Linked DNA regions of Homo sapiens: region 1 is linked to region 2. The links come from fine-mapping of genetic effects on gene expression. Tissue or cell type: whole blood. Region 2 holds a variant in brackets; the other region holds the start of a gene. All regions are shown on one strand. Distances are between the middles of the regions.

Region 1 (8,086 bases), 24 kb after region 2:
GCCTCATGTGCACAGCGAGGGATTGGGCAGGCTGCCCTTTGTAAGAAGTGTTCTAAACGCTGAGAGCCCTGGGCTGCCTCTGGCTTGTCCTGGGTCAGAATCCAGGGGCGGACATGTGCATCGTGTGCCCAGGGGTCCTTAGGCAAACTGAAAGCTTGAGGGATCCTGCAAGTGCCTGAACTGTGCTTATTTTTACTTGAGTTCTGATACACAAACACGGTCTGTCCCGCATATGTAATATTCACATATTACATACACAGAAACGGCGTGACATTAACACAGCTAGCCTGTAAGTCACACCTTAGTCTTGCAAATGTGCAGAGGAGCTGGGGGCAAATTACGACATGAGATATTAAATGTGATGTAAATGTGTGATGTATTCTAAATCCTGAGTGTATCCCATGCAGACCGGCTGGTGGTGGTGTCTGGTTCCTCCTTTTAGCCAACACCGCTGATGGCAGTAGGGAGACAGTGCTTTTAGAAAATCTAAGAGCTGTTTGAAAGTATTTGGTTAAGAAGTAACTACTGTTACCTAGTTACAGCTGCCAAATCCAGGGTCACTGGATTGATCTCAATTCCTGACTTTTCCATTGACTTCAGAGTGAGACATTCTTTGCTTTGGCATCTGTAATTTTCGATCCACAAGCATAGCGTGAAAATACTTATGCTTTCTTAGTAGCATTTCAGACACGAATAAGTTAATACTTGTCCTTATCACTTGCGTAGAAAGGAAATCAGTACTATACAAAGTCTGTACTCCCTGAATGTCTTCCTCTGTGCCTGGATTTTTAATATCTTTTTTGTATGTGTTTTAAACATTCTTGTATATAATTAAGCATAACTGTGAGTGTAGGTAAACTATTCATATTCCAGGATTAATTTATGTAACCGTATTACTTTCATTTAAAATATGTTTAAAGCAGATCCCTCTCATTCCTGTGGACCTGCAAAGTGTCCAGTACAGTGACCACCAGCTACATGTGGCTACTCCCACTGAAATGAATTAAAGTGAAATACAATTTAAAATTCGAGCCTTCAGTGGCACTAGCCACACTGCCAGTGCTCAGCAGTCCCAGGTGCCTAACGGCCACCACACTGGACGCAGTGGAGGGAGGCTCTGTCCATCCACTTCCATCACCCACAGATGGAGCTGCTGCTACGGTCTTATACTACTGGATATCTAGTAGTGCCCACATGATAGTACATACTAACTATCTGTCGAATGAATAATACAATAATTAGTTTTAACTTGTCTTAATAATTCTTAAAATGTGACAGTCAAAACGGAAGACGTCCGCTTGTTTTACACAGTTGGATTAGCTGGGGGTTATTCTTCCCTTCTGCCTATTCCCAGCTTTGTTTTTAGGGAACGTGCCACAGATTTTGGATCACACGTTCACAGAATGTATCTGATTATTTCATTCTGGCCAAATCTGTCATATTTGTTTCTCCAAATGAATTATCTAAATATTATTTTACCCAAACTGTTTGCAGTTGGGTAGATGATGTACATGTTAAACCTTCCTGGACGCTGATTTATTTTTTTCAATGTGTTAGTATCAAATTCTAGCAAATTTATTTCTTAAGCAAAGAAATCATTCCCTTTTCAAAGCCTTCTTTTCTTTAAAAAGAAATCAAGCAAGTATCCCAGCATACCATGAGTCAAAGAGGAAACTGGAAACTTCCAGGGCAAAATCTTAGACCCAAGATGAATTCTGCAAGGAAACGTGATGTGAAACTGATCCAGCTATTTGTAGGATTACAATAAATACACCTTTGCCCTCAACTCCACAATTTACTGCCAAGCTGCACAAGACAGGGATACAAAAGGAGCCGGCGGAGACACTGTTAGCGGATCCCTTCACTCCAGAGGCCAGTTTTATCCCAACACAAGGATTCTTTACTGCCTCTGCCCCTGAGTAAACAAACACCTTCCCCCCAAGGACATTTCCCTTTCTCCTGCCCTCTTTGCAAACAACATCTGAATTTGCACGTACTCTCCAGGAAATCAAATGAATGTAACCTATCTAACCAAAGAAACTGAAGAACACGCCATAAATTGAAAGATCGGTTCCTACAGTTCAGTATTTTCTCCAGTAGGCCTTTCTGTAAAAACAAAAAAACACATTTCTCCTGCAGAACCCTTTATAAATATGGTTTTGATGATCACAATTACATTGAGACAGTCTCCTACAACAAGAAACGACTTTTGGATCTGCTCAACAGAAAGAGAATTTTGCAGCTGTGTTCAAGGAAGCAAGAAAAGCAGAGAGTGAATTTTCATGGAGTTAGACTGCGTTGAGACGAATGAAGCTAAGGCTCAGGTCTCTTTCATTACGTGTTTGACTTGTCCTGATTCAAAATCTAAATAACTTAAAGGGTGATTCTTCATGGAATTCGAATCTTAACACCGGAATAAAAGGGTAGCCTGCTGACGACGATCACAGGGAGGACAAGGGGTCACCCCCACTTTCATAACATGGCCTGACCCTTTTCTGCCGCGGACAATTGATCCGAAGGACGCCGGCTGCCCAGCCCTGGCGGGCCACTACTGACCTAGTCCGAAGTTAGGAACAGCCTTGCAAACCGCCCCCTCCCCCTCCATTTCATCAAAATCGGGGAACAAATTCAGAAAAGGTGCAGCTGGTTTTCTCCCTACACGTGCCCTAAAACTCGGGGGCTGGATCCACTTTTCATAGCTGTTTAATAAGAACTCCGGGCAGTTCGTATTACTTCTTTCTCAGAGTGCTTGGTGGTTTAAGTTAAAGCATTTTCCTCTCTCGCCTTTGGGGGAAAAAGCCTCGGCTGCTGGGGTTTGTGGGCCCCTCCCCCGGACTTCGTCTTCCTTTCCTTCCCCAGCCCCCGACCCGTTTTGCTCTCGTCCAAAACAGAGCGACTCCCCCGCTGCCGAGGAAAAGCCAGTTCAAGAAGCCGGGGGAAGGGTGGGGCCCCGCGTGCCCCGGAGCAGCGCCCCTCGAAGGCGGGGGCAGGAAGCAGCCGCCGCGCCCCGTCCCGCTTCCCTCCCTTCGGGCCAGAACAATGGCTTTTTGCCCGGAAAACGGAGTTGGGAGCAAGGGCGGGCGCGCCCCGGGAATCACGCGGGACTCGGTGGGCGCCCCAGGCCCGAAGTCCCTAGGCACCTCCTCCCCCAGCCAGGGGCCCGCCCGCGCCCCCACCCCCGCCCCCGCCCCCGCCCGGGGCCCCGCGCGGGACCCCCCGCCGGAGCGCGAGGCCCAGCCCGCCGCGGACAATGCGCGCCCCGCCCCGCCCCGCACCCGCCCCCCCTCGCTGATTGGCCCGCACGGGATTTGGGCAGCGCGCGGGGGCGGGCGGCGGGCCGGGGCGCGGGCGCGGAGCGGCGGTGCGCGTGCGCGGGGCGGGCCGGCGCCGGGCGGGGGCGGTGCTTTGTGTGCTGCCGGCGGGGCGCGCGGCGGTCCGGGCGGGTGACTGGCGGCGGGCGCCGCGGTCGGGCTGGCTGCCGGGCAGCATGGAGGAGCTGAGCAGCGTGGGCGAGCAGGTCTTCGCCGCCGAGTGCATCCTGAGCAAGCGGCTCCGCAAGGTGCGTGCGGCCCGCCGGGCCCCCCGCCCGCCGCCCGCTGTCCGTCTGGCTCACGGCCCCTCTTCTCTCCCCGCAGGGCAAGCTGGAGTACCTGGTCAAGTGGCGCGGCTGGTCCTCCAAGTGAGTCCCCCGCGACGCCGCGCCCCCCTCCCGCCCCCTCGCCCGGGGGTGGGGACGTGGAGCCCCTCGGCCGCGCCGTCCGGTGGCCTGGGGGCGCCCGCGGGCAGAGCGGGAAGTTCGCGGGGTCCCCGCGGGCTCCTCCGGCTCTGAGGGGGGCGGGGGCCGCCCGGCCCGAGGTTGCCCTTTGTTTACACGCCCGCGGGTGCAGAGCTGGGCGGCCCCCCGCGCCAGAACCTCCTCGGCTGCCGCGCCGCGCTCCCCCCAACCCCCGTCCCGGCCGGGAGGGAGGCGCGGGATGCAAGCCCCCCTCCTCTTGGCCAGATTCTCCCCGCTGTAACCTGAGCTTGCTATTGATGGATGTAGAGTTTCTTTTTTTTTTTCTTTCTTTTAATGGAAGGGAGGGTGTTTGGCATCCCCGGAAGGGGCTCTCTGCACAGCTGCTCCCGCGGCCCCGTTTCTGCGTCTTCCCGGACCCCGCTCTTTCTTCGCTACCCCTCGAGGTGCCCCGGCCCGCGCGCCACATTGTTCTGGATCTCGGGCTGGGCGCCTGTGCCCCTCCCTGCATGCTGGACCTGCCTTCCCTTCCTCCTCTGGCTCCGGGCCAGGGTTTGGGGGAATCCCTCTCTGCAACTTTGCGTTTTATGGGGGTTTGTTTTTCTCCCAGGCAGAGACTGTGGGAGTCCTCTTGTGGCCTTGTTTTAATTGGGGGGTTGGAGCGGCAGTTTCCCTTTGGGTCTGAGGTTAGAGTGCTGGCTTGGTGGGGGGTGGCCAGCCTCCAAAACCTGGGTTTGGACTTTGAGAAGTGCCATGGTGCTACGGTGCCACTGCCATCGGCCCAAGTCGAGGAGCGGTGAGGGCGAGCCCCCTCGGGCTGCCTTGCAAAGCGGTGATCATCAGCCTGGCGTCTAATGCTGCCCTGTCCTCTGCTTTGCAGACATAACAGCTGGGAGCCGGAGGAGAACATCCTGGACCCGAGGCTGCTCCTGGCCTTCCAGAAGAAGTGAGGACGCTGACAGCACTGGGGAGGGTGTGGGGGAGGGACGGTGGCTGGTTGGAGTCGTGCTGGGCGCTGCTCGCCTGCCGGGAGGCTGGAGCTGGGGCTGTGGTCTGAGGTCCCTTAGCAAGATTGTGTCCAGGGCCATCTCTGTGGCTGGCTGTAAAAGTCCCCAGCCAGCCCCTCTCCCACCTTCTCCTAGCCAGCCTGTATCCATCCCTGAGAAGAACCTAAGTAAGTGCTGCTTTGGTGTTTCCGACAGCCATACTTGCAAAAACCAACTTTTTCAGTTGCTTCAGATAAAGATGTTATAGCTTCTCTTGGCCTTTTCTGCTGAGTAATTTGCACATGGCGCTAACAGAAAACCAGGAGAGCAGGTTTGCCACAGTGACGCAGGTCTGCCCTTCCAGCCCTGCACGCGTGTGCCATCAGGCAAGAAGGCTCAGAGAGGGAGCTGGAACACACAGCACGCAGTTGTGCCTATTGTGATGTCTCTCTCAAGAAAGAAACATTTATTTTGCTCTGGCCTGCAGCATACAGTACCAAGTAGCACCATGAGGCCGGATTGGGCCAGACTTGTTTCTGTAATTCTAGATGTCATTTCTATTTTTAGGTAGGAAGTTTAGGTTAAGAGATAGGCCTCCTTGAGATGTTCAAGGGCAAGGGGTGGTGAGGAGAGGGCAGTGGATGTGCCCACCTGGCATGAAGGGCCAGGGAGTACTGTTCAAGCAATGGCAAGATGGGGGGTGGTTTCACTGACGGCTCCCCCTGGATCCCCTGGCTGGACTTGCCCTGTGGATAGAGGCAGAAGAATTGGTTGCTGGAGTCTTTCCCAGCCAGGGTCAATCTGGACGGTTTGTTCTCTGGTAGCAAAAGGTGCATTCCCTTTTTTCCACTGTAGCGGGACATATTGGGTCTTCCCAGAGGGGTCATGATAATGGGGAAATAGAGTTTTCTGGTGGGGCGAGCAAAAAGAAGAGCCTGTGCTTGCTTAAATCCCTTTGGAAAATCGTAACAGCAACCCATCGTCTTCTGTTAGTTCCTGTCTGGGTGCTGTGAGCCTTGGGGTGGGGGAATGGCTTGGCCCACTTCAGAGGCTGGTGCGCTTCTCTGGATCTAAGACGGTGTCCTAACTGTTGAGAGAGATTGTGGTTTTGGTTAGAGCAGAAACACCTGAGATAAGAAGAGTGTAAAACCCATGGGTGGCTTGGATGACATCGTGGAAGAAAGAAAACAGAGAAGGTGGGACAGCCTTCTCCATCCACCAAAATGTTAGCTCTCTCTGGGCACTAGGAGCTGGCGGTTACCTGCTTGGTATTGGAGGGGGTGGGGGTATGGCCCTTGGCGACGCACAGGATCACAGCAGTCAGTGCACAGGTTAATATTTCAGCGGAGGAGATCCATGCAACACTTCATTGTCCTTTTAGGAGATTTCAGGTTAAGGACCAGCACTTAAGAGTATGAACTTTGCCTGGTACTAATCAGAACTGTGTTGAGGAGGTTGCCTTCCAGGCCCCAATGAGATGATGTTTGCCCAGATAATTACCAGGGCCCCTTTTCTGAAATACAGGCTTTCCCTGGGGGCTGGAGGTTCTGCTAGCACTTCATGACCCTGGAGGTGTGGAGGCTCTTCTGGGGGCGGGGGGGGTACTGCGAGTGGTGCGTGCATTGAGCCTTGCCTGCCTCAGACCTCGGCACCTCTGTCATCTCCCTCAAGAGTAGAGTTTAGGAACAGAGAGGTATTTTTAAAAAGGAAACAAGGAGAGTCATGTGCCAGCAGCCAGGCTCTGCGAGGGCTGGAGGACAGGGCCCACGGTGCTCCTTGCCCGGGTGAGGGTTTTATGCACCAGAAGCTGCCCAGGGGATTGGTGGCATCTCCTTGTCCTGGGCTTCCTTCTCCTATTGAAAGTAAGGAGGTTGGACCGTGTGGCCACCGAGGCCACTTCTGGTTAGAATATGCTAGAATTTCCATGCAGCAGTGCACCTGCAGGAAGCTGTCTTAAGTCAGAGAATACTGGGGCGTCATTGTTTTCCCAGCGTTGCTTTCCTGTCTTCAGCTTGTCCTTAGCCAAATGAAATGGGATGGCTGGTTACTGACCCTAGTGCAAAGAATGGGGTCTGATCTCTGCCTTGGGTATTTGATGATGTGTTTGCGGCAAACAGGATAAGCTATTACAGGCCAACAGGAATAGGGTGCTGGAAGCCATAGAGTCCCACATGGTAGAAGGGGTACGCACAGGGCTTCTCCCCCATTAACTAGTGGTGTGCCTTCAGGGAACATGAGAAGGAGGTGCAGAACCGGAAGAGAGGCAAGAGGCCGAGAGGCCGGCCAAGGAAGCTCACTGCCATGTCCTCCTGCAGCCGGCGCTCCAAGCTCAAGGTGGGTGGCTGCGCTGGGTATGCTGACCCCACCTCCCAGCACCCCCTTGGCGTAGGGGGCAGGCAGAGGGAGGGTTTGGGGCCCTCAGGAAGGGGGTGGCACTTCTGCCAACAGTCTGTCCCTCTACTCGGAAAACAGGAGCCCCCTTTCTTCCTGTCTCTCAGCTTCTGCTGCCAGGGGCCCCAGCCGGCTGAGAGTTCCTCCCCGCCCCTCCCAGGGGCTTCCTGCTTCAGCCTGTCCTGCACGCCTCTCTGCTGGGTGGCAGGGTCAAACTGCTGCAGACAAGCACTCTTCCCTCCCAGGGGGTCCTTGGGGGACGGAAAGGAACAGGAAGCATGCGTACAGTAGGTGCTCATAGGATTGCCGGCTGGATGTGACTCAAAAGCCTAAGATTTGGGGGCTACTCCGGGCCCACCTGCGGGTGCACCTTAAATCGAGGTGGCCACGAAAGGCAGGGCTGACTGAATAGCCAGGGGGTGCCAGGAGGGGCCTTGGAGGAGGGCAGAGGCAGTGTGGGCTGATGATGTGCTTTGGCCTTCTCGGGACTGTCCTGTCACCCCTCCTCGCTACAGTGATGGGCTCACCCCGCCACAGGTATGCATGCGCCCCTGGGGTCCGTGGTAGGGCCCCTCCCTCCCCTGAGGACAGGTGAGGCAGGACAGGATGGGGGAGGAGGGCCTGGCCTCAGTCCCGGGTGTGGCTTTGATTCCCTCCTCCGGGCACTGTCCCTGGACCTTCGCGTGTTGTGGCCACGAGCTCAGTCACTAACTGAACCTGCCTTTCCAGGAGGATTTCCTGAATGAACAGGATTCCCTGCTGTAGAATCTTGTTGGCTGGTCTACACTGGCCTTACGTTATCTTGAAAATCTTCCTTTTGAGCAGGATTGTGGGGGCTGCAGGAGTTCTGCTGACTGAGGAGTGGCCACAAGGCAGTGATTGATGCCTTGTTTGAGGAGGTTTGAGGAGATCACTCCTGTTGAAGTTGGGAGAACGGGGTGGTAGGGAGGCGGTGTTGGATCTGACTCCTAAAGCA
Region 2 (8,099 bases):
ATTACACTCATGGGTATACACCCAAAATACTTGACAGCAGGTGTTCAAACAAAAACTTGCACACAGATGTAACAAGCAGCATCATTCACACTCACCAAAAGGTAGAAACAAAACAAATGTCCATCAAAGATGAATGGACAAACAAAATGTGGTCTATCTATATAATGGAATACTATTTGGCCATGAAAAGGAACAAAGTACTTAGCCGGGCATGGTGGCTTATGCCTGTAATCCCAGCACTTTGAAAGGCACAGGTGGGAAGATTGATTGAGCCCAGGAGTTCAAGACCAACCTGGGAAACATAGCAAGACCCCGTTTCTACAAGCAGAAAAAACAATTAGCCAGGTGTGGTTGTGCACAACTATAGTTCCAGCTACTTGGGAGGCTGAGGTGGGAGGATCTCTTGAGCCCCGGAGGTCAAGGCTGCAGTAAACTATGATTGCACCACTGCACTCCAACCTGGGTGACAGAGCGACACGCTGTCTCAAAAAAAAAAAGGAATGAAGTACTGATACATACTTTAATATGAATGGACCGTGAAAAACATGCTCAGTGAAAGAATTCAGACATAAAAGGCCACATATTACACGATTCCACTTATAGGAAATATCCAGAATAGGTAACTCCATAGACAAAAAGGAGATGGGAGGTGGCCAGGGGCTGGGGGAGGAGGGTGGGAAGTGACTGCCTAATGGATTTCTTTTTGGTATAATAAAGACGCTTTGGAGCTAGATGGTGGTGATGGCTGTATAACATTGTAAATGGACTAAGTGCCACTGTTAAATGGCTAAAATAGTAAATGTTATGTGCATTTTTTTTTTTTGAGACAGAGCCTCCCTCTGTCTCCCAGGCTGCAGTGCAGTGGCGCAATCTCAGCTCACTGCAACCTTCACCTCCTGGGTTCAAGTGATTCTCCTGCCTCAGCCTCCCTAGTAGTTGGGATTACAGGCTCACACCACCACGCCCAGCTAACCTTTGTATTTTTAGTAGAGACGGGGTTTCACCATGTTGGCTAGTCTGGTCTCAAACTCCTGACCTCAGGTGATCTGCCAGTCTCAGCCTCTCAAAGTGCTGGGATTACAGGCATGAGCTACTGTGCCTGGCCCTGTTATGTGTGTCTTACCACAACTAAAAGAAAACAGATTCTGGGGCCACATCTTAAAAAAAAAAAAAATAGTGGAAGGCAGATAATGACCATGTTTCAGACAGGGTTTGCCCAGTGGCTTCCACAGAGCTGTCCCATCTTTGGGGTGGTTAATAAAAGCTTCTGTTGGGAGACTCAGAGGGAAGGGCTGGGTGAAGCGAGCCTGACTTGTCCTCACCTGAGATCCATCAGCTCCCACCAGAGCCCGGCAGGAGCCCGGACTCCTTGGTCGGAGAAGCACGGAGAAGGTGGCCAAGGGCACCGCAGAGAGCCCCAGCAAACTTCCCCTTCGGGTTTTTCTGGGCCCCAGCTGTGGGCCGTCAACCAAACTTTGTGAATCGACACTGGTGACTCGACATGGAAAATGACTCTCCGTCATCCGATTCAAACGTCATCAGATTGCTTTTGGTGTGGGAAGCAGAGCACACCTTAACAAACACCTCCCCAGCTGTCCCTTTTAATAAAATACACAGGTTGAATGTATTTCCAATTCTGGAATTAATCAGGGAAGTGGGTGGTTTTTTTTTTTTTTTTGAGATGGAGTCTCGCTCTGTCGCCCAGGCTAGACTGCAGTGGCACTATCTCAGCTCACTGCAAGCTCCGCCTCCCGGGTTCACGCCATTCTCCTGCCTCAGCCTCCCCAGAAGCTGGGACTACAGGCGCCCACCACCACGCCCGGCTGATTTTTTTGTATTTTTAGTAGAGACGGGGTTTCACCGTGGTCTCGATCTCCTGACCTCGTGATCCGCCCGCCTCGGCCTCCCAAAGTGCTGGGATTACAGGCGTGAGCCACCGCGCCCGGCCGGAAGTGGGTTTTTTAATCACCAGCTCTCGGGAGAAACACATTCTGGAGAGCAAAAGGCAAGAACCAACCTTTTCAACAAACCAACCTGCGGAGAAACCCCTCTGCGAGTCCAGTGTTGTAAATGAAAATGTTACCAGGCCGGGTGCGGTGGCTCACACCTGTAATCCCAGCACTTTGAGAGGCCGAGGTGGGTGCATCATCTGAGGTCAGGAGTTCGAGACCAGCCTGACCAATACGGTGAAACCCTGTCTCTACTAAAAATACAGAAATTAGCCGGGCGTGGTGGCAGGCGCCTGTAGTCCCAGCTACTCAGGAGGCTGAGGTGGGAGAATTGCTTGAACCCGGGAGGCGGAGCTTTCAGTGAGCCGAGATCACGCCACCGCACTCCAGCCTGGGCAATCGAGCAAGAGTCTGCCTCAAAAAAAAAAAAAAAAAAAGAAAGAAAGAAAAAGAAAAAGAAAAGAAAACGTTAGCTACACACACAGCTTAGGGGCGGCTCCCTGAAATTTGTAACTGTTTAGCCCCGGGTGTGTCTGTCCAGGATGGGTCATGTCTTTCAAGCTGCACATGCCCACAGGAGAGCTCACCCCCAAAATGCTGCAGCTGTCACAAGGTTGCCTCTTGTTCATTTGGTTCTTAACATGGTTGTTCTTCGGACTTTGATAAAGAATGAATGGTTTTGGCTGGGCGCAGTGGCTCACACCTATAATCCTAGACCTTTGGGAGGCTGAGGGGGGAGGATCGCTTGAGTCCAGGAGTTTGAGACCAACCTGACCAACATGACAAAACCCCATCTCAACTAAAAATACAAAAAAAGTAGCCAGGCATAGTGGCGGGTGGCTGTAATTCCAGCTACTCGGGACACTGAGGCACGAGAAACGTTTGAACCTGGAAGGTGGAGGTTGCAGTCAGGTGAGATGGTGCCACTGCACTCCAGCCTGGGTGACAGAGGGAGACTTTCTCTCAAAAAAAAAAAAAAAAAAAGAATTAATGGAAATGGTTTTGGCGGAGTGCAGTGGCTCACACCTGTAATCCCAGCACTTTGGGAGGCCAAGTAGGGAGGGTCACTTGAGTCCAGGAGTTCAAGACCAGCCTAGACAATGTAGAGAAACCACATCTCTACAAAAAAATTTTTTTAATTAGCCAGGCGTGATGGTGCGCACCTGTGGTCCCAGCTACTTGGGAAGCTGAGGTGGGAGAATTGCTTGAGCCTGGGAGTTCAAGGCTGCTGTGAGCCAT[G/C]ATGGCACCACTGCACTCCAGCCTGTCTCAAAAAATAATAATGAATAGAAAAAGAATTAATGTTTTCCATTTATATCGTTTTCAAAAGAGGTTTGCTCCTCTCATATGAAACTGAGACAGTCAATTCTGCAAAGAAATTCAAATGGCCAGTAAAGCATAGGAAAAGATGTTCATCCTTTCTAAAGAACCAAAAGTTCCAACAACAATCAGATGCTATTTGGATCTAATGATTGTTTTTGAAGGCAATACTTGAGGCTGGGGCCCTGCCACCGCCCACCCAGAATGAGACCCATTAATCATCATCACCCAGGGCTTACTCTTTCTTTTTCGTTATTGGTTTTCACGTCCAGCTTTGCCATTGATCATACACGAGACCTGGGGCAAATCATTCACTCCCTCTGTGCCGAGTTTTCTCTTTGTTCAGCTGAGGAGCTCCACGTGGTATTTGCACTGTAGAGTGGGCAAGGCCCTCTGCTATTCCGTAGGCTGAGTGGGGCCCCGTCCTGCTACAGTGACCCAAAGGCAATTGTGAACACAAGACAAAAGCGTTACGTATTTTGTGTTGTTTTCATCTGTTCCTGCTGCTGTCACAAAACACCGCAGACTGCGTGATTTATAAGTAATAGAGATTTATTTCTCACAGTTCTGAAGCTGGGAAGTCCAAGGTCAAGGATCTCCGCTTCCCAGATGGCACCTCGTTGCCACATCCTCCAGAGGGGTAAAATGCTGTGTCCTCACATGGAGGAAGGGAAGCCCTTTTATAATAAGGCTCTAATCCTGCCAGGCACGGGGGCTTATGCCCGTAATCCCAGCACTTTGGGAGGCTGAGGCAGACAGATCACTTGAACTCAGGAACTCAACACCAGCCTGGGCAACATGGCTAAAACCTGTCTCTACAAAAAATTTAAAAATTAACCAGGTGTGGTGGTGTACACCTGTGGTCCCAGCTACTCGGGAGGCTGAGGAGGGAGGATCACTTGAACCCAGGAGGTGGAGGTTGCAGTGAGCCAAGATTGTGCCATTGAACACCAGCTTGGGCAACACAGCAAAATCCCATCTCAAGGCCACGCGTGGTGGCTCACGCCTCCCAGCACTTTGGGAGGCCAAGGTGGGTGGATCACTCGAGGTCAAGAGTTCGAGACCAGTCTGGACAACATGGTGAAACCCCCGTCTCTACTAAAAGTACAAAAAAGTTAGCCGGGCGTGGTGGCAGGACCTGTAATCCCAGCTACTTGAGAGGCTGAGGCAGGAGAATTGCTTGAACCCAGCAGGTGGAGGTTGCTGTGAGCCAAGATCACGCCACTGCACTCCAGCCTGGGCGACAAGAGTGAGACTCTGTCTCAAAAAAATAAATAAATAAATAATACAAATCTCATCTCAAAATAAAATAATATAATATATGAGGCTCTAATCCCTCCCCGGAGGGCAGAGCCATTACGGCCTTCTCACTCCTCAGTACTGTTGCACTGGGGATTAAGTTTCAACGTGAATTTTGGAGGGACACAAACATTCAAACCACAGTTAAGTGTTGACAGTGTCCTGAGGCGACAGGTCCTTGCTTCCCTCTCGTCCATGTTGATGATCAGGCGACCCGCTGGATTGGTTTCCTGCGGCTGCTCTGAGAAAGCACCACAGACTGAGGGCGTTGAGCCACCCAGGTGTGTTCCCTCGCAGGTGTGGAGGCCAGAAGTCCAATCCAGAGAGGCCGTGCTCACTCTGCAGGCTCTGCAGAGGTCCCGTCCTTGCCTCTCCCAGCTGCTGTGGACGCCAGTGATTTTGTTTCATGTTTTTGTTTTTGTTTTTTTGAGACAGAGTTTCACGCTTGTGGTGCAGGCTGGAGTGCAGTGGCGCCATCTCGGCTCACTGCAACCTCCACCTCCCGGGTTCAAGCGATTCTTCTGCCTCAGCCTCCTGAGTAGCTGGTGTTACAGGTGCCCGCCACCACGCCTGACTAATTTTTGTATTTTTAGTAGAGATGGGGTTTCACCATGTTGGCCAGGCTGGTCTCAAACTCCTGACCTCAGGTGATTCATCCATCTCGGCCTCCCAAAGTGCTGGGATGACAAGCGTGAGCCACCGCGCCCAGCCGGGACACCAGTGATTTTGGCCCACGCCTTCCTGTGTGCTGCTCGGTATGAAGGAAAGCCCTTTCCCTGAAACCCAGAGACCCTCCACCTGCTTTTATTTTTCACTTTTGATAGAGACACAGGTAGTGGAAATAGTTTGCTTTCTTCTTAACTATAAGAAAAGCAACAGCATAAACACAGTTACAAACAGTGGTCAACCTCTGGTCTCAGTGCTGAGTGACCCTAGAGAGTGCTGGGATCTGTGGCAGGAATGAGAGGCTGGTGAGGAAGCCGCCTATCCTCATGTGTCGACCAGCCCAGGGTGGCCCGATGACCCTGTTTTTGTTTTTGTTTTTTTTGAGACAGTTTTGCTCTCGTTGCCCAGGCTGGAGTGCAGTGACACCATCTCGGTTCACTGCAACCTCCGCCTCCCGGGTTCAAGCGATTCTCCTGCCTCAGCCTCCTGAGTAGCTGGGACTACAGGCGCGTGCCACCACGCCCAGCTAATTTTTGTATTTTTAGTAGAGATGGGGGTTTCACCATGTTCGCCAAGGGGTGAACAGGCTAGGTGTGCCCAGGGCACTTCATCCCATCTGCTCAGCCACACCAAACCCAGAGATTCAGGGTGCAACCTGTGGTGATCTCGAAGTGAAAATATTTCCCTTGGATTATCTCATAACATTTCACAGTGGAACTAGAAGGAGGATGTTGAGGCATAAATGAAGCCAAAGGCTTAATTGGAGGGATGTGGAAAGGCAACGGAGAGGCCGCAGCATGGTTGTGTGGAAGAAGGGCTTCAGCGTTGTTGAGTTTCAATTGCAAAGCCACCTGGAAGCAGATGGGGAAAGCCTCTCCATGCAGGAGAAAGAACAGTAAAAGTTCCCAAGAAAATGTTCTCGAGAGCCTCAGCCCCAAACGCAAAGTGCTCAAAGAGCTGCCACTGATGCCCAATATCAGGCCAGCCCAGCCTAGAATAAGGACATCAAACACATTGGAGAAGGGAAGGATAGAAGCTGTTCCCCATCATCCCCCAGGCCCCATCCTGGGAGCCCCGTCACCAACCACCTTTCTCTTTAGTCCTCAGCTGGCCTCGATATTGTCACCAAGTAAACTTTGGGGTCAACAAACATGGGTAGGAACCAACATTAGCACGGTCAGCAAATGCGCCCCTGCTCCAGTAGCTGGGTCTTTATATTGTATCAGGAATCCTCCTGGTCCACCTCCCCCTCACCCATTCCTTCTACTCAACCAAGCTCCCGTACCACGCCACCCCCACCCCTCTTCATCGGCCAAGCTCTCCCCCACCTCCCAAAGGCAGACACAACCTCATCTCAGCTCGCCACCGTCCGCCAGGGGAGACTGACACACATTGACCGCTCCCCGTGCCACCTCTGCTGTGCACTAATGCATTCGCCTAATTTCCAGTAGTCAGTGACATTTCACTGTGGAGGCAGAGGTTTCCACTCACGCCAACTCAAGTCACTGCAGCCTTCATGGAGCTCAGGCAGGATTCGAGGCCCTAAAGAGGGGTGGTAAATAGTGAAGGAGGTTACAGGCACAAGGCAGAGAAATGATGGTGCCTTCCCATTCCAGGTTTACTTTTTTCTAAAGCATTTACTAAAACTAAATTGGAACATCTAAGTTGGTGATTGCATGATTGAGATATTGGAGCAAAAGAACAGCTTGGTTGATAGTTGAGTTTTCACATGGACAGTAGAATCACCGACGTTTTGCTGTAGGTATAAAATGATTTCCAGGCTGGGCAAGGTGGCTCATGCCTGTAATCCCAGCATTTTGGGAGGCTGAGGCAGGCAGATCACTTGAGGTCAGGAGTTCGAGACCAGCCTGGCCAACATAGTGAAACCCTGTCTCTACTAAAAAAAAAAATACAAAAATCAGCCAGGTGCGGTGGCACCCACCTGTAGTCTCAGCTACTGGGGAGGCTGAGGTGGGAGGAACACTTGAGCCCAGGAGGCAGAGGTGGCAATGAGCCAAGATCAAGCCACTGCATTCCAGCCTTGGTGGCAGCGGGAGACTACATCTCAAAAAAAAAAAAAAAGATTTCCAGCCGGGCGCAGTGGCTCACACTTGCAATTCCAACACTTTGGGAGGCCAAGGCAGGTGAATTGTTTGAGCCCAAGAGTTTGAGATCAGCCTAGGCAACATAGCAAGACTCCGTCTCTACAAAAAATACAAAAATTAGCCATGTGTGGTGGCACACATCTGCAGTCCCAGAGACTCAAACTACAAGTGGGAGGATCGCTTAAACCTGGAAGTGGGAAGCTGCAGTGAGCCGTGATCATGCCACTGCACTCCAGCCTGGGCAACAGAGTGAAACGCTGTCTCAAAACACAAAAAAAATTATTTCCTTCTCAAGCCTTCCAAATACCTGGTCTTAGCGCCTTTAATATACAACGAATGCTTACAAATACAACAGAAAAAGATGAGTAACCTAATACAATGGATAAATGATTTGGATAATATATTCAGACAATTCTCAAAAGAAGTATGCAAATAGCCAAGATGTCAGCCTCAATCGTAATGAAAGAAAATAAATCAAATGGAGTTGTAGTTTTCATCTTGTGGCATCTTTTAAAGCTTGATAAAAGCTACTGCTGATAAGAAATGGAAATAACAGGCCTCTCACCTCATGTCAATGTGCCTGGGCACAAGCAGAAGCTTCTGGAAGGGCAATTTGGCTTCATCCATCAAAATGTTAGGGCAGGTGTGAGGGCTCATGCCTGTCATCCCAGCACTTTGGGAGGCTGAGGCAGGAGGATCGCCAGAGGCCAGGAGTTGGAGACCAGCCTGGGCAACAAAGTGAAGCCCATCTCTACAAAAATGA

Evidence for each region. PIP is the estimated chance that this variant, and not a neighbour inherited with it, causes the effect.
Region 1: CBX2 starts here. The variant in region 2 is fine-mapped to the expression of CBX2 in whole blood (TOPMed, PIP above 0.99).

What each region holds. Positions count from the first base shown.
Region 1 is chr17:79,774,749-79,782,834 of GRCh38, forward strand. CBX2 (chromobox 2) reads left to right here and starts at 3,400. Exons shown (of 5, transcript NM_005189.3): 1 at 3,400-3,559; 2 at 3,636-3,679; 3 at 4,614-4,679; 4 at 6,948-7,053. The coding sequence starts at 3,488. RefSeq lists silencers at 3,205-3,584, 3,595-3,664 and an enhancer at 4,060-4,653.
Region 2 is chr17:79,750,941-79,759,039 of GRCh38, forward strand. LOC124904070 (a long non-coding RNA gene) reads right to left here and starts at 8,087. Exons shown (of 2, transcript XR_007065927.1): 1 at 7,902-8,087; 2 at 6,404-6,773. The variant G/C (reference allele first, on the strand shown) is at 3,189.